Regions from separate parts of the Homo sapiens genome. Here region 1 is linked to region 2. Evidence: fine-mapped QTL for protein levels in blood plasma. A gene starts in region 2. The other region holds a variant in brackets. All regions are shown on one strand. Distances are from middle to middle.

Region 1 (13,870 bases), 130 kb before region 2:
ACTTCTGTACAAGAGACAAGTCATCACCTGGTTTCAAGACAAGGGAGAGATGCGGGTTTCTAAGAGTTACTGAGTCCAAGCACCCAGCTGTCACAGGGCTGAGCCAGGAAAAGGATTATGCTCTTAATCATGTTATTTTGTTACTAAAGCGTTCTTTTAAATTCCCCTCACCACTTCCCCTCAAGCAAAATGTACCAGTGTCTGAAATTAGAGGTGCTTTTCTGACACTTTTACTTGCTGAATGACTTTTTGTTGAAAGAGCTTTTGTTCAGGCAGTAAAACCTAGGTGCTGGGGTCCAGGAGCATCTTATTTGGCTTCTGCCAAATTACAAGGCTGAACAATGAGACCAGTTTGTGTTTATCTGACATGGGCCTTTAGGAAAACATTCAGGTCCAAGATGTCATCTCTGATTCCATGAAACACCTAGCCTGGTAGCTGCATCAGGACAGCCACTGCTTTGGAGAAACAGTCTAAAAACCTTGTAACAATCAAGCTAGCAAGCAAACACAATTAAAAATCAGGGTTGTCTGAGGCAGTTTTCGTGTCTGAGCAGGGACATCCGGGGGGCCCCAGCTAAAATACTGGCTGCACCTGTTCAGCCTCTTTCACCTCTTCAGCAGCCCAGAACAAAGCTGACTGCAGCAAAAGCCACCAGATCAAGTATCAGGTTGCACTGCAGGGACTTTATACCTCAAGCCCATGTGATCCAAGCTTTTTTCCAACCCCATGCCTTGACCCAAATGAGGGGATCTAGGAAGCCCAGCTTGTGAAGGGTGGGTGTGTATGAAGGGCTTCCTGTGAGAAAGGATGACTGAGAAAGATGCAGATGCTGTCTAGATGGGTGAGCAGGATCAAGTCTTTCTAGCTAGTATTGCTCTACTGATCTGAATGAATTGGGGAAAGAGACCATGAATTTGTCTTCAGAATAGCTGCTCTACCACTAGTTTTGGAGCATGAGCAAATCCTTTCACTCAGTGGACCTCAACTTCCCCCAGTTTTTTGTTTTTTTGTTTTTTTTTGAGATGGAGTCTGCTCTGTTGCCAGGCTGGAGTGCAGTGGCACGATCTTGGCTCACTGCAGCCTCCGCCTGCAGGGTTCAAGTGAGTCCCCTGCCTCAGTCTCCTGAGTAGCTGGGACTCCAGGCACACGCTACCACGCCTGGCTAAATTTTGCCTTTTAGTAGAGGCGGGGTTTCACCATGTTGGCCAGGATGGTCTCGATCTCCTGACCTCGTGATCCGCCCACCTCGGCCTCGCAAAGCTTCCCCCATTTTTAAAATGAAAGGGTCATACTAGAGGTTGGCCATTCTGTCAGTTCTAGATAAGACATTTGGGTATAACCGGGCAGGGCTAACCTGTCAATTACATACAGTGGAAGTTCTTTCTGGCAAAAAGGACTCAGCTCTGTGACTGTTCCTTTTTGCATCTGAAATTGGATGTGCGGTTTTCACTTGTGTTGCTCTCACCCACTTGGCATGCCATCTGGCACACTGCCCAGCTGGCCTGCAGTCCCTCTCTAGGCCAATTCACTTCCCACATTATGGCCAGGTAGCTTTCCCAAGCACAAACGGTGTCTGTTGTTTTATTTACTCCAAAGCAAGGGAGCACTCCACTGCTTCAGCTAAATTCCTAGCATATGGGAACCAGGTCCCTCCTGGCCTGTCTCCAACCACCCTTTCCCAGACTTGCCCTGCCAAGCTCTCACAGATCCTGCACAAGGCCTGCTGAACCTTTTGTTTCCCAAAGAGCACACTTGGTGCCTTTGCAAAGGATGTCCCCTCTGCCTGAGCTAGTTGTTCAGAAAACTTGTTCTTTAAGAACCAGCACAAATATTGTTACCCTAACCTCTAGGGAGCTTCATCAGTACTTTGTTCGTACCTCCAAATGGCAACTACAAGGGCCATGTCGGTCTCTCTTTGCAAATGAGGAGGTAGAAACTATATTCTAGTCAACTTTGTGCCAGGCGCTATGGATGTAATTCAAGAAACACAATTGGAGATGGCAATCTAAAGGTTACTGGGCCACTATAGGTATGAACTGAGGCCTCAACCTGCAGCTTCCCACACTCAACTGACTTAAAGCATCAAAAAAAAAAAAAAAAAATTTCAGAGGGTCAAAAGTAAAATACTGTAGCTGAAGACTTATTTAAATAATTGTTTTAAAAACACCCCTAGAGGAAAACCTGACCTAGGCATTTCATAATGCTCTTTTGCAAAAGAAATAATGCTCTTTTTGCAAAATAATGCTCTTTTTGCCAAAGAAAAATCAAAGGCTGTGTCCCAATATACCTCCAATATACCCTCTGTGTTACAAAAGATAAATGCTAACAAGGAGTAAAATCCAGCCCCCTCCACCTTATTAATATGTAAGAAGACTGAAGTCACATCTGTGCAAGGATCTATTTTTAGTGGACCCTACATACTAAAATCCTAGCCTTGATCTCTTAAACTATCAAGCCTACCATAAATGTTTGATGATGAACAAGCCCATAAAAAGAAAATGCATAAAATGAATAGAAGGAGCCAATGCATGCTCTGCTTTTTAATTACCGGTGGCTTCTGCTAAAATCCTGCTCCAGGCTGGGTTTGAGCAGAGAAACACGTCAATAATTTGGGTGGGGGTGGCTGGGTGTGGACACTGCAAACAAATACATCAAACTATACCGTTATGTATGCTTTGGAAGCCAGATACAAATGGAGGAAAGAGTAGCATCATACCCACAAAGGGTGGGGAGGAGAGCAGCTTAAAAAGGAAAAATTAAGAGATAAATAAAAGCATTCAGGACACAAAAGATAATATAGAACAGTCAGGTTTTATTACTTTTAAGTAATAAAGAGCCTTTTCCTTGCTTTTCTTTTTTCCCTTTTTTTCTTTTCTTTTTTCTTTTCTTACAACATACATTAAGTCGTGAATCAGATGTTAGGGGATGTGGAGATGGAAGGAAAATTGGTGACATCACAATATTTTTACAACTTTACAACAAATATAAATCTGAGTTTGTTGCATCTACCAGTGTCTAGCAAGGGTGGAAAGCAAAGGCACACTCGGGTTTATGGACCCTCCCCCCACACACAGTGGGGAAAAAAACTGGGGAGAAATACTTAAATGCAGAAGACCAGCTCAATACATGTGGGTATTTTAGGGTTAACACCAGAAGTGATGGGTTGTGGGGGTGTAGGAATGTGGATGTAAGTTTTGACACAGGTCTCCTTAACAGCTGAGGCAGTGATGCCTACAAACACTGGACAAGACAGCCGCTTACGTCAATGATGGGTGCTGCACTGCCAGTACTCTCGGGAGTCAAGCATGGGAAAGAAGGGGGCAGGGGGATACAGACCCATCACCTTCCTAATTTCTGCATTTCTAGAGAAAATTCAAGGAAGAAAACAATATTTCAGGTTCTAGGAAATACTTCAGGGTTTCAGGAGACAGAGTTCACAGGATGTGAACATGGATTCCATTACAAAAGCCAAAAAAAAAAAAAGTAAAAACAACAACAACCACCTACTCCTAAA[C/T]AACAGCAAAACTAATGGACTTTTGGAACAAAGGGCTCTCACCCACCCTCAGCTAAGTACTCAGGTCTGAAGGCAACCACACTGATTATGGAGGCTCCACTTTTTCACTATCCAACTCAAAACTGTCATTGTCAGTCTTTTTTTGAATTCTTTTTAAAGACAAAACTAAACCCAGAAGATCGAACTGGAAATAAAAGCAGACAAAGAGACCACCAAATATACTGTTTAAAAAAACAACAACAACACTGCTCATGGTTTACAGTATGTGGACAGTTCCTTTGTTCATGATAGAGTAAACAAAAGTCCCTTTTGTGTGCTTGAGCAAATGAAAACCAAGAGGAGAAAAACACACACCACCTCCCATCCCCTAAAAACATAATTAACAAAATAAAAAATAAAATAAAAAATCCTTTGCCCCAGTCAACGTTTTTGCAGCATCCATTGTGGTCGGCCTTGTACTTGGAGTTACTCGTTAATCACAGCAGGGACCAGCCTGCCTGCATCTATTTCCATGTCATTTCTTTGTGTGCACTGCACGTGTGTGCTGTGCACATGGCTTGGAGACTCCTCCCAGGTGTCTGCCCAACCGCGCACCGCCTGCTCTCTAGCCAGTGGACGCAGCAGAAAAGAGGAATGGGACGTTAGTCCCTTTTCTGCTAGCAAATAAGGATATCACCGTATTGAAATAATCTAAGGGAAGCAGGGAGCTCTTGAGGATGAAAGGGGATTTGACACACCCACAACAACACTGGGGTCCATGCTTCGCAGCACAGCCAAAGGGTGGTTCCAGTTGGCACAACTAGAAGGCAGTGTGAATTGGAGGGTGTGGTGCTGCCCAGCGTTCTCAGGCTGTCGCATGACAACTATCACCACTGCATTCTTCCATCTGCTTGACTCCAATCTTTCAGAGGGCTGGAAGTGGGGCAGAGGGTGGGGAAGGGAGGGTTAAATAAATATCTGCACTTATTTCAAAAGGGGGAACAGTTGATCATAAAGAGTTTACAAGTGTACACAACTCAAGGTGTAAGGCACAAATTTACATGTGGAAAACAGGCTATTCACAGATGTAACCCCACGAAGAACCCGTGTGATCAAATCATTAATTTATGCAAGGTAGCAGCCAGCATATTAGTTCACACCATTTGTGGATTTTGTTTGCTGTCTCACATGCAAGGTGAAATGGGATGGCATATTGCAAGCTGGTGCCTTCACAGAAAGTCAGAACCATGGACAAAACCATGTTGGCATCAATGAGATATGATGTGCCATTCTAAAAGCTTTCTCTCCTGATTGCTTTAGAAATTAGGATCTGGAAGGACTTTAACATGAATTAGTTTTTTTGCATGTTTATAGGCCAGAGACCTGACCAGGCAATGAACTGATAGATTTAAATAAATATTCCCCTCCTAACTTTTTCCTTTAGCTACAGACCAGACAGTCCAAACACAAAGCTCAGAATTCCAGCTCCAACTTATTTACTCAGTGAATTTATTGTAAAAATAAAGAAACTCAATTATTCCAGTTAATGGATTTCACGTTAAATAGTTTAACTTTCAATGGGCTTTCTGAAGAGCTGTTCATAGGATGATATTTGGAAGAGTCCTTTCCTTAAGGAAAAAAAGGGTGAACAATAAATAAAGAGTTACTTGCGTTAACGGTCACGTTATTTCATTAAAAGAGAGGAGGAGCAGAAATCTATGACATAGTTGCCCAACATGGCATTTATCTGCTGCAACAGAAAGCTGTAACACTGGCGGGCATTTCACAGTATTTGCGCATAGTAAACTTCTGCCATTGTTAAAGTCTGAGTTAGAATTATCAATGAATTCTTTTTTTTTTGTCTTTTTAAATTTTCTTGATTTTAAAAAATGTATTTGTGTTTTGCAGGTTGGAACGCAAACCCAGTCTGGCCACGTCCCGTGAAGTTGTGGACAAAATGTTTCAGTTTCTGTTCACCTCTGTGCGTGTGTGTGTATGTGTTGTGTGCATGTGTGTGTGTGTGTGTGTGTGGGGGTGGGGGATGGGGTAGGTATGTGCTTTTGGCTCATGTTTGTGATGATAACTGAAGTCTTTTGTGGGTCCGACCTGTTGTAGGGTGTGGGGGAAAGTGAAGGAAGAGAATGAAGGTGAGTCCCCGCCGTTGCAAACCTTCACCAAACCACGCGGCCCAGTTTTCGTGAGTACCCCTGTGTCCCAGAGAGGAGGACCCAGCGTCCTCGGCTCTGCCGCAGGCCTTCTTGGTCTGGTGGGTACTCGAGGCAGTTGAGAACCTTGCTGAGCTGAGCGGGCACCTCGCCTTGCCTGCTGGTTCGACACCTGACCCCCTCCCCCTGGGATTATGTACACGCATCATTGGGCTTCATGGATGTGGAAAGGGGAGCAAAGGATGGTTTGGGGGGTACGTCCGGCTTTAGCGAGGGCGTACGCTTCAGCCCCGACCTTGTCAGTGAGTTGTAGGCGTTGAGGCTGGGCTGCCTCGAGACAGTCACGGCCTGGCCAGATGGCTGGGAGCTGTGCACCTGGATGGAGTCCACCCTCTGCGGGGCGGGCGGCGGGTTGTCTCCCCTGCCAAAGCTCTGGTTTCTGGAGAGGTGAGAGGAATTGGAGGAGTTAGTGTTGTTTCTTTTGAGAGTGGTGGCCTGGTGGCTTCTCGTGAGCGAGTTCGTGGGGTAGCTCCTCTTATAGTCAACCCCGTAGGAAGAGGAGTGGTGCATTTCCAGCCGCTTGCTTAGACCGGTCTGAGACAGGGAGGCTCCCGGGGGACCCAGGGAGGCCTCCCGCTGTGGAACTTTGGGGGGCAGGCTGTCCAGGTTCTCCACAAGGTTCACCCCATGGTTGGGACTCTTGCTGCTGAGATGTTCCTTGATGGTCTTATACTCCAGTGTGGCGGCCTGGTCCTCCAGCGCCATCTGGGCCACCTCGCTCATTTTGGGCTGGTCCACGTACTCATGCTGGTAGCCCTGCTGCGTGATGGGCAGGACCACCACGCTGGGGATGTGGCTGGGGGAGGCCCGCAGGGGCAGGTCCGTGGGAATCACAGGGGAGCCCATGGGGGGCATGTCCTTTGTGCAGGCATTGATGAGGTTCTGGTTCCTCTCCCACTCGCGGCTGCCGCGGCTGGGCTTCCGCTTCTGCTGCAGCGTTGGGGTTGACTCTGGGGTGGGGAGGGCCGTCAGGTCCAGGTGGTGCTGGTCTGCTTTAATGAGCATCTTGGCCGTGTTGCCGGGAGTGGCGAGCTTGCCGTTGTGCATGAGTGGCGTGAGGATGGCCTCCGGCTTTGGGTCTTTGGATTGAGTGTCCCCAAAGAGGCCGCTGAGCTTGGTGACGCTGCTCATGGAGCCCCGGCGCGAGTGGGTGAGCTCCTTCTCCTTGCGCTGCACCACAGCCACGTCTTTGCGCCGATGATCACAGACGCAGTAGACGGTGATGCCCGAGAAGACGGCCCCCATGACGAAAGCCAGGATGACTGCAATGGCCAAGAGGGTGACGGGAACCAGCTGGTCGTGGCCTTTGAGGTAACTTTCCCGAATCACTCCTGCAATAGACATCGCATATGGCGTTAAGAAATGAAAGCACACCCCGAGGCTTGTTTTTGCTTGGCATTCACCTTGTTAATTAATAACAGTAGTAAGTGACAACAGCACCTCTGCACAACTTGTCTTCCAAGCTCAGCTTGCCAAACATTAACCAATTAATCCTCCCCAAGCCCCTCGTGTGCAGTATGTAAATGGACTCCATTTGTAGCCTTCTTTGTTGTCTAAAAAAGTGCTGTTCAGGCCGGGCACGGTGACTCACGCCTGTAATCCCAGCACTTTGGGAGGCCGAGGCGGGTGGATCACGAGGTCAGGAGTTGAAGACCAGCCTGGCCAAGATGGTGAAACCCCCGTCTCTACTAAAAAAAAAAAAAAAAAAAAAAAAAATTAGCCAGGCGCGGTGGCGGGGGCTTGTGATCCTAGGTACTCCGGAGGCTGAGGTAGAGAATTGTTTGAACCTGGGAGGTGGAGGTTGCAGTGAAGGGAGATCAGGCCACTGTACTCCAGCCTGGGTGACAGAGCGAGACTCCGTTTCAAAAAAAGAAAGAAAGAAAAGTGCTGTTCACTCTTTCCAGTACCTGCACTTTCTACTCTGCTTCACTCCAGGGAATATGGGAGGTTTTGGCTTTCAAAAGTTATCTTTCTTTCCTTCTTTATGGCTTTTTAACCTTCCCTTCCTAGAACTGGGATAACCAAGTTATCCTGAGTCTGGAGGAAGAGGCAACAATTTTATGCATGTTAGACAAACAAATCACACACTCTGGGCTTCCAGTTGGGATCTTTTCCGACGGCCCCCTTGTGGCCACCGGAGCCTCCGTCTGGGGAAAAGTGTTTGCCTTTTAAGCAACTAGAGGAAAGAGAGTGTGTGTCATTTTTATTTACACTGAGAGAATATAGCTAAAGTTCACAGACTACAAATGTTTGTGCTGATTTTGCATCACCTCTCAAAAAAAAAAAAAAAAAAAAACAGTGCAAACTCAATTTCAGGTAACTATCCTGAATATTTGAATGAAGCTTTCTCACTGGAACTGAAAGAAGATTCAGAAATAAGACCATTTGGGGCCCTGTAGTGGGTTTGAGAAGTGTTAGGTACCATTATTGCACCTAGAGTTTGCTGTCACAGTGGGATTTTTCAGCAGAGCTAATCTCTTCAATTTAATAAAAATTATGTGACTACACCCATCCGTAATCTTACACTACATTAACCAGGATTCAGTGTTTCTGAAGGAAGGTGCTTTCGCTATTCCTGCTTAATCAGCCACCCAGCTGAGTGACTCTAATCAAATGCAAACACAGAAGCTTTTATTTTTTAATACCAAGTGAGAATACACATCACAGTTGTCAGATCTTAAGTGCTTGATGCAGTCGCTAAAAAATAAAATCTCTAATACCTCAATTCCTGCCTCTGGAGAGTGAAAGAACATGAATACATTAGAGGCACTGCATGGGCTGAGGAAATGTAAACATTGTTCCTATTATGGAAATGATAGCAAGACAGAAAAGGTACCTTCTCTGGTCTCGGGAGACGCATTTTTCATCTACTAAATCAACTCTTTCTGGAATATGTTTCATGTATTTTACTGGCAGGTATCAGTGGCACAGAATTAGAATGAAAGGAAATAAAGATCTCTACCCCTTCCCAAGCCCACAACACGCAACCTTAAACTTCTACTGAAATGTTGTCTTTGTCACAGCCGAGACCTTGAAGCTTTCTCATGGGGGTTTTTCTGCTAAAATATTTTGATTTCTGAAGTGATGGTTTTAAAACCCAGAAACCTTAGCCTGAAAAGTACATTCTCTTTTTCTTTCCTTCCTAAGGGTCCTCCTCCCTTCAATTGTGACATCACAGTTGGTTGCTGTGGAAATGATTGTCCTGTGACAAAGGATTGTGACTTAAGTAGAAGCAGCAAATATCTCTTAAGAAATAAAGATTCTGTGATCCAACAAATACCCTTGGTAATAAAAGGCAGTCAAGGCAATTCACCATAAGGAAAGAGTGTACAAGACGGTAAGATATCAAATAATTTTCAAATGTGATACTTTTCAAATATTTCCAGATTTATCTCCATCAGCTTTTAAGGGGTAGAAACTGAGAAGCAAAAAACAGCCGGAAATTTGGCTGTAACTCACACCTTTTATGTGTGAAGCTCCCCAAACAGTGGGGTGTCCTGCATTCAAATATATTTTAGTACCTATTCACCAAGGAAATGTGCTAATGAAAATTTTCTTTCTTAAATTTGCATTTCCTTATTATGCTAAAATAGCTACTGATTTTTCTTCAATTTTGATTATGTATGGGGTTCTACCGAACACCGTTTTTAACCCCCTACATATAATTGCACAAAAATGTACACCTGTGGATAAAATGGTTTTAATTTCTCTCATTGACTTGGTGATTTCAGTGGGAGTTGAACACAGGCTAGACGGCCCCAGTAATGGGGTGGGGGTGTATTAGGTGTTTTTTTCATGGCAATGAGTATTTCATGAAACCCTTCCAGGCTACCAAATTTAGGGGGACTGGATATTCCCAATAAATGTGTATTATAATAGGAAGCTATTTACAATTGACTTTGGCATTCTACAATTTAAACTGCCCTCTCAGTTTAAAAGGAACGTGGAAAGAGTAAAGCTAGAGCAATTCATTGGTTTCACTGGGAAAACTGCAAATTTTTCACATGTATCCATTGCTTCTTAGCCTTACTTTTAGCTCCCAAATATCATTCTTCTTTCATGTCTGAAGGTCCTTGGCTATTTTAGACTCATGAAAGCTACTTATTCTTTCACTGGGAAGAACTCTTTTTTAGTGGATGATATTTGAGTTCAGGTTTTTGGTTGTTAACAAGTTAAGTAGGATCTGACCTTTCAGGAAAATGGTATCTCAGACAGATTTTTTCCCCCGTCTCATTTTGTTATATAAAGAGTGGCCTTAAAAACATTTTTGCATGTCTTCATCTATCCATGGGGAGGCAGAGGGCTTTCCTCATCTGCTTGTGTAAATTCAGAAACGTCCAAAGATGGAAACAGATCAGAGAGTAAGTTGAAAGTGCAGTTGAAGAAGATAAGGTAAACGTTATTTTTGGAAATGCCTTTCAAACTTAAAGCTTTCTGCTTATATCATGAAAAAGGCCAAAGAAGCATTCACAGAAATGATCAAGTCAACTTTGTGGAATAGCCATTGTGAAGGCTTGGAAACAGCAGACTTGTCAGTAGTGGTGATAAAAGCAGCTAGAGAAGATCTCAGTGGGCTTGGAATTGCAGGCTCCCACTTACTGGCTGGGTGACCTTTTGGCAAGTGACTTAACATCTCTGGGCCTCAGTTTTTTTATCTGTAGCATGAGGTGAACACACCTAATCTTACTGCCTTACTGGATTGTTACAAGAATCAAAGGAAATAAAAAATAGGAAAGAGCTTAAATGCTGTAGTTTGCTGGACAAATCTAAAGCTCAAAAGAAGCCACAAAGGAGAAGTGGTGGGTTAGTGGCTCACAGAGGGCTTCCAAGTGATAGTCGCAGCTGCTCCATTGGATTCCATTTGCTATTGGTCTCCCATGGGAGAGGAGTAGACCTGTGCTTCCAGGTCCAAACTTCGTGCCTTCTAAATGTAGTCAAAAAGGTGATATGAGATTTCGAAGCAATATAAGGGAATGCATACTGTTTCAGGATGCCTATAGTTACTGAATTTTGAAATAATTAAAACAACAGAAGTGGAAAATGTTGGCAATTATAGTTGGATTCTCAGTGGAGTGCAAATCCTGGGCAAGTACCACATTTTTTCGGCATTTATAACCCTTGCCATCCACAGAGCTCTTAGTTGGGTAACTCAACAAATGATGGCTGAATAAATGGGTTTTCAATACATTGTAGAGCTATTTTTAAATGAACTTCTAAACTTGGGAGGTAATCTTTAGAGTGACTATCACCCTTGCTTTTGAAGTCATGGAAATAAATTCTATCTCCAATCATATAAAAGAATTTTAATAGTAGCATCTATCAGACAAACAAAAATAAATCTATAATGGTGCTCAGTATTTGCTCAAAACAATAAGAAGAGAAACTATTTCAAAAATGAAATTAGTTCTGGGAAAAATCCAAAAGAGTCGATGACGATAAATGGGTTATTTACAACAACAGAGTGCCCCAGTGGAACTGAATAATTAGAAAAAAAAAAAATGCATCTCTGCAAAGGGCAAAGGGCAAAGGGCAACAGGCTAGAGCTGAGTATCCCTTGCTTCAGATGCTGCCTGGAAGCCCTGGGCAAGTAAAGGGCCCTTGGAGGGTGGTGTACTCCCCTCCGCAGGTATCCTCCCACTGCAGAGAGAACAATCAGAGTTGGCTTCTCTACCCTAGGGTCTTGAAATTCCTTCCTCTGCCAACCCCTGCATCCTCTTCTGCTCTTACCAATTGAAAATGGGGCATTAGTAATGAAAACAGTATTTGAAAAATCCTTTGCATTGATTCATTAACCACCAGCTATTTCTCACCAGTCATAAGGTGCTAAATGGTTAGTCTTTCCACCTTCCTATTGCAGGAAGCAAGGCACACCCTGGCTTAGAGATTTCTCTGAAATCATGTCTTAAATTGGCAGAACTGAGAAAGAATAGAATCTCCACTGTTTTTTTTTTTTTTTCCTGAGGTGAGAGTTTTCAGATGCTGGAGGGAGACCTCAGAGAGGAAATTTGAAGTTCTTTAGAGTCCAAAGCAATGAAAAGATTATGAAGGACCCTGCCCCTAGACCCTGCAACATGTGATTCAAAATAAGAACAATTGTAAACTGAAAACTAAGAGGAAGCCCAATACAATTCTGACTTTTCCTATGATGACCATGTTAATAAATTTTGAAATATCAAACACTACATTCCTTATTTTAAAAAATGTTTTCTAGTAGTCCTGCTCATGGATACTATTCCGTGCAAAGGGAACCTAGCACCAGGCTCTGAGACAATTTGCTTTAGAAATGATGTTTTCCCCTAACTTAGGGTTGGGTTGTTTCTTTATTATCACTCTCCTAGTATAACAAGGTTTTGGCTCCAAGCATCTTTGTGGCTGCCTTCAGCAAACATTTACCAAGCACTGCACTAGGTGTCGGGGAAGGACAATGATGAATGAGGCATAAACCAGCAGGGAAGAAGGCAAGTGCTTGCATACAACTCTGTCCAAAGTGTGGCTATGTCATGAGTTACATCACTTCTGCTTCAACAGTGGGCAAAAGCTTTACATTGGAAATGGCATTTGAGCTAAGCCTTAAAGATGCACAGGATCTTAGCTGGAGCAGAGAGAGCAACAAGAACTGAGCCTTGGAGGGAAGGAAAGGGAAGGCCGTAGTGAGTAATAGCAAATGGTCTAACTCCCTTCTAGTCTGTTAGGCTGGAGGCATGAGCCACCCTTCCATACTCAAGCTTGCTTCATGGCTCTCATACAGGCTGTTCTCTCTGCCTGGAATGTCCCTACTCATTTTCCCACTCATCAGACCCTATCTTTAGGGCTCAGCTTAAATGGGGAAGCCTTCTCTGACTCCTTAGGCCAGTTAAGTTCTTCCTTCTAAAGTGTCCCCAGAGCTCTGCATTCCCTTTATTCTAAAATCATCACTAGTATGATACTTGTTTTTCTCACCTAGACTGCTAAAACTCACCACTGAATCTTCAGGCAGAAAGGTGCTCAGTAAATATCTTTTAAATAAATAGTAAAGGAATGCATACATGAATGAGCACTTGTAGAGAAAATACAAGAGCAAGAGCTAGAAATACCATTTGGAAGGCTGTGGACAGCCTTGAATGATTAAAAAAGAGGTTTAGAAGATCTGCCACTCATAGAAGGAAAGTTCTTGGTTAATTTATCTGCAGTTTCTCTTGCCTGAGAAAGCTAACTTTCGGCTTGCTCTGTTCCACATTGAATCCATTATCGCAAAACTCTTGGCTTCAAAGAGTCAGTATCATTGCATCAAAAGCACAGCTAGTCTACCTGCATTTATTATTACTGTTTTTAAAATTAAAACTCTCAATCTTAAAGTATACTAATGCCCTGCACCTTACACAAATAGCTGGGAGATGTTATCTGTCCTATCAAAATGTGAAGCAAACAGACAAGCAAAAATACGTAAAATTAATCACACCTATTAAGCTAAATACAAAGGAAGAGCTCTACTCACCCCCACCCCAATTACCACCCTAAGCGTGTAAGACACAGGCAACCAGTAACCTAACTCGAAATGGTTAAGTGTGCACTTTCCCCTCTCACCCCCTTTCACTGGACGGCCCGTTTCTGAGCTGCTGTGATATGATGGATGTGTCTGTCTCCATAGTGAAGTGATTAATAGGCATCTGTGTAAAGTGGACCCGGTGACCACAAAGACAACAAAGCCTCTCTGTGTCCTTTAGAGAAATATGCAAAGGCAAAAAGGAGGATGGACATTTCCTCCATCACTGAGCCAGAGAGGGTTTGTGTTGGGTCTGAGAGCTAAGAAAGATGGCAAAACACCAAGAAAAGCCCCGGAGTAGCATCCCCTAAAAATAGATTCTTGATTCTGCTTTATAGTAAGACAAGCCTACAATTTCCTTGAAATCCTCATAACAACTTGAGTGAATGGAATCTAACAGCCCAATTTTTCTTGTTTGCAAATCTTACTGCAACAAAATTCCAGGCTCACGGTCCTGCAAGACAGTATAAATGAATGAACTAATCACTAGCCAAGCATCGCCCCGCTAACCACACAGGGCCCGCTGTAATCCCTATTAAGAAGAGAAGAAAACAAACAAGGGAAAAACCCTAACTGGAGACAATTTATTCTCAAAGCCACACCCCAGCCAGTCGAGGTGACCACGCTGA
Region 2 (15,096 bases):
AGCCAATTATTTCCTACCTTTGGTGTGGAAGGCAGTAGTTTGCTTTTGCTCCCAAATTGATTTCAAGCTTGGCCAGGGAAGAGTGACCTGGCAGATGCATGCCCAACCTGAAGACCCTCTTGCAGAAGTCCTAGCCACAACCTCCTCAAGGGTTCCAATCAGCAGCCGAGTTTCTCTCCTAAGACAGGTGTGGTCCTTGGGAATTCAACTCATCCCTAAAATTGTCATTATGAGTTGCTTTCAGATTCTAAATGTAGGTGCAGAGTGTACATTTTATTATTAAAATGTTAATAAGTGATAGCTATCATTTTTCAAAAACTATCCCTTGGGCTCCTATTTGATATAAGGCTCTGCTTGTTATTATTATTATTTTTTATATATAGTGGTTTTTTCCTTCCATGTTTTGGGTGTGATATTTCAAATTCCAAAGTTTCCCTGTTTCCTGTTTCCCTGCAAGTGATGTATTCACATGCTTCTCAACTTAAAACCCATGACATTATGGCCTGTTTATGGTATGAATGTTTGTTTCTAGTCCAAAGGTTGTTTTCTTTTGCATCATCTCTTTATATTACAGATTCGTAGCCATTTCCTTTTCTACTATTTCCCCTGCCCCCCAGAATAAAAGTACTATCTGCTTTTTCAAAATCCATTCCTAGGACATTTTTCGTAACTACTGTTACTCAAGTAAAAATAATACCTTATGTTGAATGACTGCTTGTTGTGTGCCCGGCATTGTGACATGCATTTTACAGATGTTAGCACATTTATTCTTCTCAAAACCATAACATTATCATCATACTAGCACTTTGCAAATGAAAACTGAAGGAGAAAGGAAACTGGCATAAAGTCACACTGTTGGTAAATGGCAAAACAAATCCACGTGCATTGTCTGTCAAAAAAGCATGACCTCCGCAATGCCTCTAGAGTTGTCCACTACCTTCCCTCCAACGGTCCCTTCACATTTATTAACCTCACGCCACAAGATCTAACGAATTCGGCCTTGTTATGACAAAGATGGAAACTTCTACTAGTCCTGGTTCACCCTGACATATTAATCGTTACACTGATTTGAACTATTTCAGAATTTAACTGAGCAAAAACAATTATCTTACTTTTAAACTAATTCCTGGCAGAATGGTACTCCTATGACCTTGCCTGATTTAATGATAATGTTGAAAGCAATGTTTCCTTGACATGGTAGGTGTTCTAATTAATAAAGTTGCTATCCATGCTCTAGGTGAACTGTACAATTTCAATGAATTTGAACATATTATTTAGTTGCATAATGTGATTTACATTAAAACTACATGAACAGTGTATATTCTACCAAAAATAATTTAGAAGATGAAGTAGGATCTCTGTTATATCCAGGGTCCAGAGTGGGAAAGAGGGGGTTAACATCAAACTTCCCAAATTTCCACAATGCGTGTAATATTTCACTAAATACATTCACATTCATGATTTCGTATTATTTTCCCAGTAATCCTATAAGTTAGGAAGAATAGGTTTACTATTTATAATTTTCAATTAAAATAATGCAGCCACAGAGAAGTTAAGTGACTTGTCCAAGGTAGTGAGAGTCTGGAACTCAGGTCTTCTTGTCTCCAAGTGCAGGATCCTCAACAGCAGATATACTGTACGGGTACAGGGCAGAAACATGGGTTAATAAAGTATGCTGTATTCTCCTGATAGAAAGTTGAATTTTAAAACTACTATTAGCAAACTCCAAAAAAACATGAACGTTCTATGGCCAGTGGTTAGAATGCAGAACAAATGAGGCCAGGGTCAAAAGCTCAATCCCCACAAATGCTGGCTGTCTTCTTAGCTCTGTTTCTTGGCAAGTTGATTTTACCTAACTCAGACTCCCTCCAGCTACAACCAGGTGTCTCACAGATGTGTGCTCTTGGACACAGGAGGGGACTGGGTGAGAATGTGGGAATGAACAGGCTCCAATCCATCACTACCACTGGAAAAACAACACAGTGAATGTTCCACTAATGATGCATGAGCCATACCACCTATGTGCTTGGAAGATTGTACACACACACACACACACACACACACATTCATGCATGAAGTACACACACACACATGCATGCATGAAGTATCTCATTTGATAAAAACATGATATAGAAAAACAAAGGCAGACAAAATAGATAAAATAAAGACTAGTTGTTTGCAAAAATGATTCACTGTTTATTCATTCAGCAAACACTTGTTATGGATGGCCCATGATGTGCCAGGCACAGCTTTAGGTGCCAGAGTGAATAAAGCCTAAAAATGTCTATCCTTATGGCATTATGTTCTAGTGGAAGACAGAAAATCAACAAGGACAACATATAGTTTGTCAGACTGTGAAAAATGCTAAGAAAAAAATAAGGACTGCCAAGAGGTGGGGAGTGCTGTGGGAAAGAGTAAAGTAAATAAGGGGATCAAAAGGCTTCACTGAGAAAGTGACATTTGAACAGAGACCTGAAGAATATGAGAAGCAAATCATGTAGCTATCTGGGGAAAGAACCATCCCAAGGCATGAAAGAGTAAGTCCTTGCAAAGGACCCCAAGTATATGCCATGCTTGACAGATTCAAGCAAGCCCAAGGGGTGGAGGTCAGAGAGGTTGGAACCTGAGTGCAGATCATGTGGGGCTGCAAAGGCCATAGGAAGGACTTTGGCTTTTATTGGAAGAAGATGGGAAAACATCTGAGCAAAGTAGTGATCTGATCTGGTTTAGTTTAAAAAAAAAATCACTGCTGTGTTTTGGCTGCTGTGTTGAGAAATGGGCAGAGGCAGGAATGCTAGTGGGGAAGCTGGCATGAAAACCTAGCAGGAGAGGACCATGGCTTGGCCAATTTGAGGGCCACAGAGGAGGAACACCTGAAGGAAGCCTGCAGGTATTCCAAAGGTGGAGCCAACAGCATTGCAGCCACAATGGATGTAGGTGTGACAGAGAAGCTTCAAGGAGAACTAAATTTGGGGGCCGGCAACTCAAAGAATGGAGTTGCCATTTACTATGATGGAGAAGACTATGAGAAAGGCAGATATGGGGGAGAAAGATACAGAATTAGGTTTTTTAAACCTAAGTTTGAGATGTCTATTCAGGAGGAGCTACCTACCCACTAAGCATTGGTTATTTGTGAGGTCCAGGAGAGAGGTCTAAGCTGAAGAGGTTATTTGGGAATCATCTGTGTATTATGGTTTTATATGATACCCTCTATTGGTGTAAATGGAATTATTGTAATAAAGTTTTGCAAGAGCTCATCTGTTTCACAAAGCAAGATACCCTTGTGTATAGACTATATGCAGTAGTCCCATGGTGAGAAGTTGTCCTGAACTCCTCCCCTTGAGGTTTGTGTGGTATGACATCTCATTTGCCCATTTCGAAGGGATTAAATGCCTCCCTCCTTTCTCTATCTTACCATATCCCCAAGAGGCAACCATGTGGTCGCCAGCAGAGAATAGCTCAGTTGCTCTTGCAGCACATTTTAAAGCAGATGAGAAAAGCCTTCACGCTGAAATAGAAATATCTCAGAGAAAACTTGGCTCCAAGGCACCCCAAGAGAGTGGGGGGGGTTCCTGATATGGGAGGGCCCAGCAGAACGCCTCAAGGCATCACCTTCCTCAACATGCACAAATGTGGCTGCCATAACACAAAGCTTCTATATAAATATGTCAAGGAGCACTCCTCTACTCTAGGAGGACAGAAAATTGTCTAAACCTAAAGAAGGGTGTGGAGAGGGGCAGTGCAGAGATAGGCTTTCCTAGGCATTGCCTTACACAAATGGCAGATGCTTAATTAAAGCATTTGCAATTAGCTTAGCTTGTTCTGTGATTCCTTCCTGCAAACAAATAAGATGGAGAGACTATATTAGCTCTTGGCAATCTAGTTCTAAAAAAACTTTCATCCCATCATCACTCTTTTGTCCTGTTCTGAAAAGCGCTGAACCACAATGTACACAGAATAAACTATCTGACTTAACTCCTGGTTCAAAATAGTATTTTTCCTTCCATTTCATATAGGAGTGCAACTACCCATTTACTTTTAAAGCATAACTACTTATTTTGAATTTAATACAAGTTCTTAATTTGGATGCCTCATTTTTATTTGGTGAAGATAACAGTCTTCCTAATTCTTGCTACACTTCTGATTCAACACATTAGACTTCACTAGTGCAATGTTACCCGCCTACTCAAAATACAACTGCTATATGTGTTTAATGTTGGAAAAAGCATTTACTAGATTTTGGAAGAACTTGAGGGGTGTGTGTTGTGTGTAAATAAAAAGGTGCACTTATTGCCGCCTTATCATAACCACTCACTTGAAGGCATATATTTTTTTTTTCACTGTAGGGAAAATAAAGAAGTCCACTTTAAGTGGACAAACATGAACCATGTGTGACTATTTATTTCATTCATTCGACATTTACTTGAGTGTTCTATACTGGTTCTTATAAAATTTTTACCTATTTAAGCTTAGTTGTTATGTCCAATAAGTATATTCAGCTGATGGCTCCTCAGAAATGATTTTCGGTATCTGCTTAACATTTACATATGTGGATTATATGCGTTATTGAAAATGTAGCACATCTCTAAAAGGTGATAGCTGCAAAACCTAACATATGGGGAAGGTTGTCACCCACAAACACTGTACATCAGAAACATAAAGTAGAATGCTTCTTTACATCAAGTTGAAAAATGACTCATAACCAAAAGTAAGATTTTAAATTTGATGTTCGTTCTTTTCTGCTTTAAACTGGTTTGCAAAGTGCCTCATTCAAGAACGTCCCAAAACCAAAATAATAACAGGGAGTAAGGGTTACTCAAGATTCAAATAAAAGTTACCATACAAACAAGCATGGGTAAACCAAATTCAAATAGCTAGTGCAATTATTTTTTAATAGATAGTTTAGGTTAATAGGTGGAGACATAGTTCTGCCACTGTATTTAAGGTTAGGTTAATAATTAACTTTGGTGCCTGGAGTAGTTTAATCAAAGCTTACTGTAAATCATAAAACTGCTCCATGTAGACTAAACACAGCATTAAAAAGTCATACAAAATTCTTGCAATCTTGACCGCTGGTAGCCATTTGGGTACGGTATAAAAAAGTGTAGAGTATTTTTAGTCAGAATTAAACATAGGCATCTTTACTTTGGGGAGAAAACATAATTAAATAATTAATTAAACCACCAGTCCTCCCCGCCATCACTGTAGCATACCACAGACTTGATGCCCAAGATGTGTCCACCAGGGGAAGGACGACGAACAATTTCAGGACTAAAGAAAGACAAGGCAAAGGCACTCGACCTTCCCATCCTGGCAAGACTTAAAAACCAGCGCTGGGGGGCATTAAATAGCTTTTCTGAGACCTGCTGGCACAACACTGCAAGTGGGTTAAACGGCTTTTCAGATCTGAGGTAAAGAAAGTTGTGCGTACAAGGGCGAGTGTGTGCGTGTGTGTGTCCATGCACGCCTGTGTTTTAAACCTTTCACAGATCGCATTCAGTAGCGTAAAAAAGCTGAGCGTAAAAAAAGGAGCGATCCCACTGTGGCTGTGCCTGGCCACCGCAGTTCCAAAGCAGCCACCTTTCTCCCAAAGACCGACGCGAAAAAGCCTGCAGGGCTCCCCAGTGCGATACAGGCCGGAGACTCCCTGGAAGTGCTTGCCCCGGCTGTGAAGACAGCGCCTCCAGTCTCCCATTCCTCTCCCGCTCCACGCACACCTGGCTCTGCTTCCTCCCTCCCTGGATAGCCACGCTGGGAAATCGTGCGCAGGGAGCAGATGGCTCGGGATTCTGCACCTGAAGCTGCCTACTTGCAAGCCACTGAGCCCCGGCCTGTGTCCACACGCACCTTCCCCACAGCCTCTGTCCACAGTGGCCGCACCTGCCTCCGGGGTCCTGCTTCCCCATTCATCCCTTCCCCGACTTGTCGAGCAAGTACCGCGGGCCAGGAGGTTCCACTCTCCAAAGGGCCGGGATCTAGCTCCTAGCTGCATCCCGAGCTGTCCGCATGATTCCCTCCAGGTCCGGCTTCCCTCAGACTGCACATGCTGAGCCCCAGTCCGGTCGTGCCTGCCGCCCCTGGCTTTCAGGGAAACTTTCCAGGAGCGCCTGGTCTAGTGACCCCGCCGCTGTAAAGTGGGAGGAGGCGCTGGGCGGAGGGGCGGCGAGGGAGCGGGAAAAACAGCGGAATTCTGTTTCCTTTCCCGACGTCCACAAGCCCGGGACCGCTCCCTGGCTCCCCCCGTGCCGCTCGGGTCTTGCGAGGAGGGAGGAGACCTCAGGATCCTGTTTTGCACCATCTCCCACAGCGAGGAGCTGAGCAAAACGCGGAGAATCGGGACAAGAGACACTTCCCGCCCCAGAAGGATCAGGCAGGGTGGGTGGGCACTGCCCGGCTTACTCTCCAGCGCCCCATTGCCCCCATGGTAGCGCCCTAGGACACAGTGAGGAGTCGGAACAGAGCCCTAGTCTGGGTTTCAAACCCAGGGCCATCTTCTGCCAGGTCTCTCACCCTTCCCCCTCCTGGGTCATCTTTCCAGAGCGAGACCGCGCTGATCTGGGAGGAGGGCGTACCGTGCGCCAGCCCGGTGCAAAGGGCTCGGTGCTTCAGGAGGGACGCAGCCGCGACGGGCTATATCCTTGCCGCTCGGGTTGGGAGCTGCGGCGGGGGACAGGACCCATGGCGGGGGCGCCGCGTCACCCGAACGGCTGCTCCCGGACACTTATTCGAGCAAACAAAGCCCGGAACCTCTGGTGGCAGCGGCCACAGGAGCCAGGATCTCACCGAGAGACAGGGCGCGCGGGTGCCTAGAGCCATTACAAGTTTCTTGCACTCCACGGAGCCCAGCCCAGACCCCACACTGACAACAAAAGATTCTCTCCGCTTCCACACCGTCTCCGCGGAACCCCTTCTCCCACCTGGCACTGGACGAAAACAGCGCTGTTATACCCAACCCCCTCCAGCCCTCGAGGGCAGAACCCCTTCCCCTGCCTTCGACACACCGGGCCAGGGAGCTTCCGAGAATCCCACCATTTAGGGCCCGCTCTGCTCCCTGCTGGGCACGCGGGAGGATGAGCCTTGGGTCTCGCACACACACCCCCAGGAGGAACAGCCATACGCGCCGTCGCGGCCCGGGGCGGCGCCGGGCGTGTGCGCAACGCGGGTGGGAAAGCTCTCGACGTGGAGCCGGACGCACTCTGGGGCGCAGGGCAGAGAGGAAAGGCAGGCAGGGCTCACGGCTGCTCCCCCAGGACCGGGCAAGGCTCGGGAAACAGAGACACAAGACAAAATAAAACGCAGGCACCACAAAGCCGACAGCACGCGCTAGCCACGGCCCCGGGACCCTCAGGCTGGAGTCCAGCTGCCCGGGAGGTGGGGCGCGCCCGGGCGCCCGGGGCGTACCTTTTCGGTGCATCGACGGACAGGCGGCCGGGGCTCGGAGCGAACTGGTACAGCGTGTATCCCATTTAGTAATCCATTATCGAGGGGATCTCTCCGGGCCGCGGGCTGCGCTCTCTCCTTCGCAAGCCTTTGTCATTCCTACATGTGTGCTTGTCTCTTTGGGGGAAATAGTCGCGGCGACTACTTTCTGGGATGCAAACGCGATGTGTTCATCTCCAATGACGAGCGGAGAAGGGGAGAGGAAAAAAGAAGCCAAAAAAAAAAAGAAGAAAAAGAAAAAGAAAACCAACAAGGAAGAGGGTAAATGTTCAAGAAACTCTTCTCCAAATCCAAATTCCACTTGGATTCCACTTCGGTGAGTCCCCTTGGTGGTGTCTGCGCCGATTAACAAGTCATTTCAGGGCGGGGGGCGGGGTGGGGGCTGGGGCAGGGGTGCAAGGCTCTGGCCCGGCTCTGCGGCCGGCAGCGCGGTGCCGCGGGTGTGGTGATGCTGGCCGCTGCTACACGCTGCTAAGCGGGCATCGCGGGCGACCGGCACCGCGGAGGAGCGCCGCTGCTGGGTTCCGAGCGCCTGGGCAGCCGAGTGCGCGGGGAGCGGAGTTGGCTGCAGCCTCACCCCGTGCCGCTCACTACTCCTCTGTCACCGGAGAGGCCGCCGCTCCCGGGCGGAGCCAAGTCCCGGACTGGATTGCGCAGATCGGACTCTCCTTCCGCAACTCCGCCTACTTTGGCTGGCGTCTCCTCCGACCCAAAGGAGAGCTGTGGTGTATGTGAGTGCGAGTGAGCGAGGCAGAGGCGGAGAAACTACGCGGTGTGGCTGCAGGTGGAGCCTTGGACCAACTGGCCAGCGCCGCTTCCTTCCACCAGGATTCCTGGCCCCACCGCGCGCTAGGCGGAGGCTCAGCGGGGGCGACTCTGGCTGGAGCCCAGCCCTCACCTCCCCCACCCCCACATCTGCTCTAGCTAGGAAAAAAAAAAAGAAAAAAAAAATCCCGGACAGCATTGCTGAGTCCTGCCAAATCAGAAAAATAAATAAAAATAGACGTAGTGCAGGAGCGAGTTACAAGAAAGGTTTTGTTCATCGATTTTCTTAAATGGAAAAGTTTTAAAGGATGAGGGTAAGTGAACGGCGAGCTTTTCTGATTCTGATTACTGTTATCAAGAGGTAGATTCCAGAAGCGATGGACGCTCTACGTAGTTAGATGAATTGGATAGAAGCCGGTGCGGTTAAAAATACACTTGGAAGATAAGAACACAGCTATTAATTACGCACATACACACGTTAATAAAGCATGTGAAGTAAGCAAATAAACTACAGTGCAGAGAATGGCGTTTTTAACGACGGCGATCTATTTTAAAACTTAATGAAGTTCACATTTTGTGGACTGGTCTTAGAAATAAGTAAACTTCAGAAATAACACGCATACAATTCCAGTGAGAACCCAAAAGGTTTATGGAAGAAGAAAATCGCAACCACTTCCAAGGCGCTATTGTTATGATCACATGAAGAATGGCAGGCACAGCCTTCTTTCACCACTTGAACTTTCAATAGCTACAAAGTCTTGCAGTTACAGGCTTGTGCCAACTCGTCGGGCCACACCACGTTCCCCTCCCCCTGCCGCTGCGCCCCGAAATCAACTGCGCGCCGCGGCTCTTGCTCCCCAAGGGGGCTTCGCAGATGGTACGGATCCTAGTCGCAACCTTTAAACAAAGTAACATCGGGCGGCCCAGCAGTTCTCGGAGAGATATTTACTAGTCATGGAGTTGGCTGAGAAAAGCAAGTGCGGAGATCGGGGTCTCAGTCCCACTTAGGCCGAGTTTCTTTATATTGGAAACTGTACCTGTTCCCTAATTGGGACTAAGACCACTAATAAGTCCACGTTCCCTCTTTGGTCGCTTCTCTAAGTACAGACATCTGCTTAAGAGGCTTCACGAAGAATAAATGCACATGGGTCAACACCCATTCCCCCCGCACCACTACCACCACCTGGAAAAGGTAGGGAGAATGGTAGGAAAAAAAGAAAAAATCAGTACCCCTGCTGTTCTCCAGAGCTGTCAGCAGGGGCCGCTATCCCCACCTTTCTCGGGCAAAGGCCTCTATAGACCTGGGGTAGTGGGGGGCGCGGCCCTAGGTGCGCGCGCAGCCCCCGCGGCTTCAAGAGCCAGCCTCGGGAGGGGGTTGGGGAGTGTGGGGCGGTGGGTAGGATTGCGCTTTCCCGCGGGTTGGGTGGGGGCCGGCTCCAGGACGTCTCCTCAGAATCCCGCGGGGTTAGGAGAAGGATCTGGCGGCCAAGACGGCTGGATCCCCGGCTGCGCTATTTAACACCCAGATTTTGGCTGATGACTGCAGGGTCAGTGTGAGCTGGTCCCCTGGCTCGTCCGTGCGCCCCAGGCGCGGTACTGCAGCCCCTTCGAAGCTCCGGACCCTTCGGCCTCCGGGGTTTTTTGTCCCGCGCTCCACCCAACCGGGGTCGCCGAGGCTCCTTCTTCGCTCCCCGCCGCCGATTTACATGCTAATTGTGTCTGGGAAAAGTTCTTAAATTGGCAGAATTAGGCAGAGCAAACGAATTGTTTCACAGGCCGAACTAAATTAATTTCGGGTTTAGCTCCTTCCCTTAGAGAAACAAACAATTAAGTTGTTTTATTTGCTTTATGGATATATTGGAAATGCCCCACAACGAGTTTCAGGATATTGTTTAAAGGGACATTATATTCAATATTAATACTTGCATGTTTAATTTGTAGTAACGCTGAGCCAAGAAGCGAGCGATTAAATTTACCTAATTTAAAATTATAGAATACGAGAGTTAAAGAATTGGAGTCTACTTTTCACAGTGAAGAAATACCACCCAGAATCTTCCTGGCAATTACTAGATCCTAGTCTCACCATCCAAGTAGGAGCCCTTCCTTCTGACCACGTGATATTACATTTCCACCTGCCAGAAAAGATGCTCCCGGAGCTGGAAGAAAAGCCAGCTATTGTCAGGCTCCCGAAACCCCCAGGGGAGCACCTGTGGGGAAGCCAGGCTATGAAACCTCATGATGTCATTTCCCCATAAGTGCGCCTCAGACTCACTTCCAGAAGCCTGCAGTAAGTTTTCAGTAAAACCACTGCCCCTTCAAAGCCTTTGAAGTCTGCAATTTATACCCTGTCCCTTCAGGAAAAGAAAGCCAAAGAGTTAAAGAATCACAGAGTGATGAGAAGGTGACTTCAGTGGTTTTTTTTAAAGTGACGTAAAATGGAGTGTTTGAGGCCCTGGTCTCTGGAGGCCATCTGCGGTTAATGTAACTTAGCTGGTGATCTTGGGCAAGTCACTTATCTCTGTGAAGTCCCAGTGGATTCACCTGTAAATGGGGATTCTTATTCTACTCACTTCCCGAGGAGCTCGTGGATTACATTAGATGATCTTCGTAAATTCGGAGTCTAAGGCTGACACTGCTTTATAAAGATTAAGTGTCACATTGTCATCCTTGCCATCCTCCACATCAGTCCTACCATCACATTTTACAGGAGTCACATGGAAGCACAGCGGACAGAAGTGGCTTGACCTGTGTCAGCGATTGGGTCAGGGCTGGGAGCTACCTGTAACAACTCCCCCTCCCCTTCTTCTTCTTTTTTTTTTTTTCAATTTTTGAGACGGAGTCTTGCTCTGTTGCCCAGGCTGGAGTGCAGTGGCGCAATCTCAGCTCACTGCAAGCTCCGCTTCCCGGGTTCACGCCATTCTCTCTCCTCAGCCTCCCGAGTAGCTGGGACCACAGGTGCCTGCCACCACGCCTGGCTAATTTTTTTGTATTTTTAGTAGAGATGGGGTTTCACCGTGTTAGCCAGGATGGTCTCGATGTCCTGACCTCGTGATCCGCCCGCCTCAGCCTCCCAAAGTGCTGGGATTACAGGCGTGAGCCACCGCGCCCAGCCACCCCCTGCCCTTGTTAACTACATGACAGTTCCCGCTTTCCTCAGATCACCTGGAAAAGTGTGGCGGAAGATTAAAATAAAGCAGAAAGATAAACTCAGGTTCTCTGCAAAGACCACATCTAGCTGTTTGATCAGAATCTCTGCTTTGAGACAAAAAGGAGTAATGAACTTGGGAGAAGAAGGGGCTGCTGCTACTCACAGTTCCTTGAGGGTTCATGGGGGCACACTTGGGGAGCACAGTTTGTACATTCAGGCCATTATAATTTATAATCAAGAAATCTATCTGTACCCTCAGCCCCTTCTCCAAAGTTCCCTCCACCTCTTTGCCTTAAGTCAGTGGTTTTAAAATCCACTTGCACATTAGATGACCAGGGGAGCTCTTCAGTGATGCAAATCCCCAAGCTCAAGATTCTCATTCATCAGTAAGGACTGGGACCTCGGCATGGGTAGGTTTTAAAACTCCATAGATGATTCTCATTTGCAGCCAGGGATGAGAACCACTGCCACAATAAATCCTGGCTGTATTCTAGACCAATTACTTTTCCCTAGCCTTTTTCTTGTGGGGGCTGTTTCTTCTTCTTGTCCGTTTATTCCTCTTCACAAAGAAAGGTCCGTATCCTTGCTCCTCATGCTGCTTTCAGGCCATTTCTCCTCCTCTAAAAACCTCTGGCTGACTTTGGTAGCTAAACTCTACAAATACATTTGTGGTCTCATTTTATCCGATTCTTCAAAGACTTATTGTCCTCCTATGTGTCCCTCCACCTGTCATGACTCATGGTAGTGTTAACATCCATATAACCACTGACCCTCTGGCTTTTCCATTTCTTGCCTTCCTCATCTATGCTGTCTTTCTACTCCCCTCCTCCACCTACTCCAGGCTTCATTCTGGGCCTTATTATCAAAAATGCCCCATCTTCCAAATCACTAATTCTGACATCCTGCTTTCCAATCACTTCTTCTCCTTCAATCTTCCTTGCTCATGCACCCCCCTGCATTCACTGATTTCTTGAGGACCTCCAGATTTTGAGTTTTGCTTCTCTCTCGATCACCTATTCCCTCCTTATTTCATTCCTCTCTATGTCTAGCATAGCTTCATAGTATCAGTCCCTCTCTCTTGCAAATACTTTCAATTCTGTTGCTCCTCTATCTTTGGTCAACATCTATCTGACTAAAAGCTAGTTCTGAAGTATGTAAACATCAGCCGTCTCTGCTTCTGAACTGGGCAGCTGAAGCCTGCTGGAAAAAAAAATGTAGATAGATTGTTATCAACCTCAATCTCATCCAAAGCACCGCCTTATCTCAGTTCGTTTCTAACTTTCTCCCCGTAATCAGATATCTCACACTTCATACCTCGTACTTCCCTGAAAAAAACGCAGTCCATCAGAAGGGAACATTTTTGCTTCTGTACTCATTATTTTTTCTTTCTTTCTTTCTTTCTTTCTCTCTTTACTTTCTTTTCTTTCCTTTCTTTTTCTTTTCCTTTCTTTCTTTTCTTTTCTTTTCTTTTCCTTCTCTTCTCTTTTCTTTTCTTTCTAGATGGAGTTTAACTCTTGTTGCCCAGGCTGGAGTGCAATGGCACAATCTTGGCTCACTGCAACCTCTGCCTCCTGGTTCAAGCGATTCTCCTGCCTCAGCCTCCCAAGTAGCTGGGATTGCAGGCACCTGCCACCATGCCCGGCTAATTTTTGTATTTTTAGTAGAGACGGGGTTTCACCACTTTGGCCAGGCTGGTCTCGAACTCCTGACTGCAGGTGATCCACTCGTCTTGACCTCCCAAAATGCTGGGCTTACAGGCGTTAGCCACTGTGCCCGGCCTGTACTCATTATTTTCTAAGTGTCTCTTCTTATGAAGGAGGCAGTGTCCCTCCTCCAGTAGGAGGCCAGTCCCTCCTTATGTTCCCAATAATTCACAGGTTCTCAGAAATTCTGTCCTATTGTCTCCAGACCCTCTCCTGCATCTGCCCATCAGCATGTAAGCAAGCTTCGGTCTTTCCCATCTTAGAAACAGTCCGCCTTGGTCGCCGGGTGTGGTGGCTCACGCCTGTAAACCCAGCACTTTGGGAGGCCGAGGCAGACGGATCACGAGGTCAGGAAATCAAGACCATCCTGGCTAACACGGTGAAATCCCATCTCTACTAAAAATACAAAAAAATTAGCCGGGCATGGTGGCAGGCGCCTATAGTCCCAGCTACTCAGGAGGCTGAGGCAGGAGAATGGCGTGAACTTGGGAGGTGGAGGTTGCAGTGAGCCGAGATTGCACCACTGCACTCCAGCCTGGGCGACGGAGCGAGACTCCGTCTCAGAAAGAAAAAGAAAAAGATAAAGAAACAGCCCACCTTGGATCCCATTTCTTTCAAGCTACTCTCTTCTCTCCTCTCTTCCAAAGCCAGACAGCCCCAGAGATTGTTGATAACCAGTGCTGCCACTTCGTCCTCTTTCATCTACTCAATCCCCTTTTGCTAGTCTTCAGTGACATTCATGACAGTAAATACAGTGGGTATTTTAACGTTTTCATTTTATTTGAATTATCAGCAACAATTGTTTCTTGTGACATACTCTCTGCTCTTGGCTTTGATGACACACTACTCTCTCTTGGTACTCCTCTCACTTTTTTTTTAACTTAGTTTTTCTTTTGAGGAAATTGAAACATTGTCAAAGAATAATATAACCAACATCCCAATTTTCATTACTCAGAATTAATGACTGTTAATATTTTGTCATTTTTGTTTACTGTCTGTATTTTAAGAAATAAAACATGGTGGATAAAACTTAACTTCCTCATCATCAACATCTCTTTCTTACTCTCATTTTCTTTTTTTATAAGTAATGATATTATGAGTTTTCTGTGCATCCTTACATTTTGTTTCTGTACTTTCACATATACCATATGTATCTGTAACCAATATATAGTAATATTTTTGGTTGCTTTTTCTCCCAAATTAACATTAAATTCTATTCTCTCTTGTCCTCTTATTCATTCTCCAGATTGTAGTCTAAGTGATCTTTGAGAGATGCACATCTGATCACATCAAGCCTCTCTTAAAACACCTCAGAGGCATCCATAGACACCCCTAAACCCTAATACAGCCTTAACATTGTGCATGATTAGTTTCTTGCCTACCTCTCTGGTCTCATTTCTGCCGTGCTCCCATCACTGTCTCCCTTTCTTGCAGCATCACTGGTGTTTCAGTTCCTGGAAAGCTCCATGTTTCTTGTTTGTAACTACAGGCCTGCCCTTGTGCTCCTGCCTGGAATACTGGAACTTCCCCTCTCCCTGTTTACCAGACTAACCTCTACTCATCCTTCAATGTCCCTGCCTCCAACAAGACTTCCCTGATAGTCTAGAATAGATCATATTCTCCATTATGTATTCTCAAAGTACCCTGTGAATTTACCTCATAGTGCATATCAGACATTACAGCTAGTATTAATATTTGGTGCAATTATTTGTTGAATGCTTCTCTTTCCTGTTAGATCACAAGTTTCTCAAGTCTTCGGACTATATCTCTGTCATTTATCTTGTATCTCCAGCACTTAACTGAGAGTAAGGGTACATAAGTGAGGGCATGAGTTAGTGAAAGCAATTAGTTCCTTTTCAAGGATTCAGTAGGATAAGGAATAGATCCTTGGATGGAATAGGACCATTTAAAAAGGAAAAGGGGAAAAAAAAAACTCTAGACATATATCATGCTCTTCAGATTTTGAGATTCCAGTTCTAAGGATAAACAAAATCTAGGCTTTCTCCCAACACAGAATTTCGACTATAACGTGTCTAATTT

Evidence for each region. PIP is the chance, under the fine-mapping model, that this variant and not a neighbour inherited with it causes the effect. Protein levels are from the aptamer-based SomaScan assay of Sun 2018.
Region 1: its variant is fine-mapped to the plasma level of the SEMA6A protein (Sun 2018, PIP 0.95).

The regions. Positions count from the first base shown.
Region 1 is chr5:116,440,762-116,454,631 of GRCh38, forward strand. It overlaps SEMA6A (semaphorin 6A), which reads right to left. Exons shown (of 19, transcript NM_020796.5): 19 at 2,794-7,050. The coding sequence ends at 5,852. It overlaps SEMA6A-AS1 (SEMA6A antisense RNA 1), which reads left to right and starts at 6,737. Exons shown (of 3, transcript NR_109879.1): 1 at 6,737-7,030; 2 at 8,867-9,056. The variant C/T (reference allele first, on the strand shown) is at 3,516.
Region 2 is chr5:116,566,784-116,581,879 of GRCh38, forward strand. It overlaps SEMA6A (semaphorin 6A), which reads right to left and starts at 8,040. Exons shown (of 19, transcript NM_020796.5): 1 at 7,402-8,040. It overlaps SEMA6A-AS2 (SEMA6A antisense RNA 2), which reads left to right and starts at 7,635. Exons shown (of 3, transcript NR_147170.1): 1 at 7,635-7,756. RefSeq lists enhancers at 5,317-6,098, 10,736-11,371, 11,372-12,005 and a silencer at 7,796-7,875.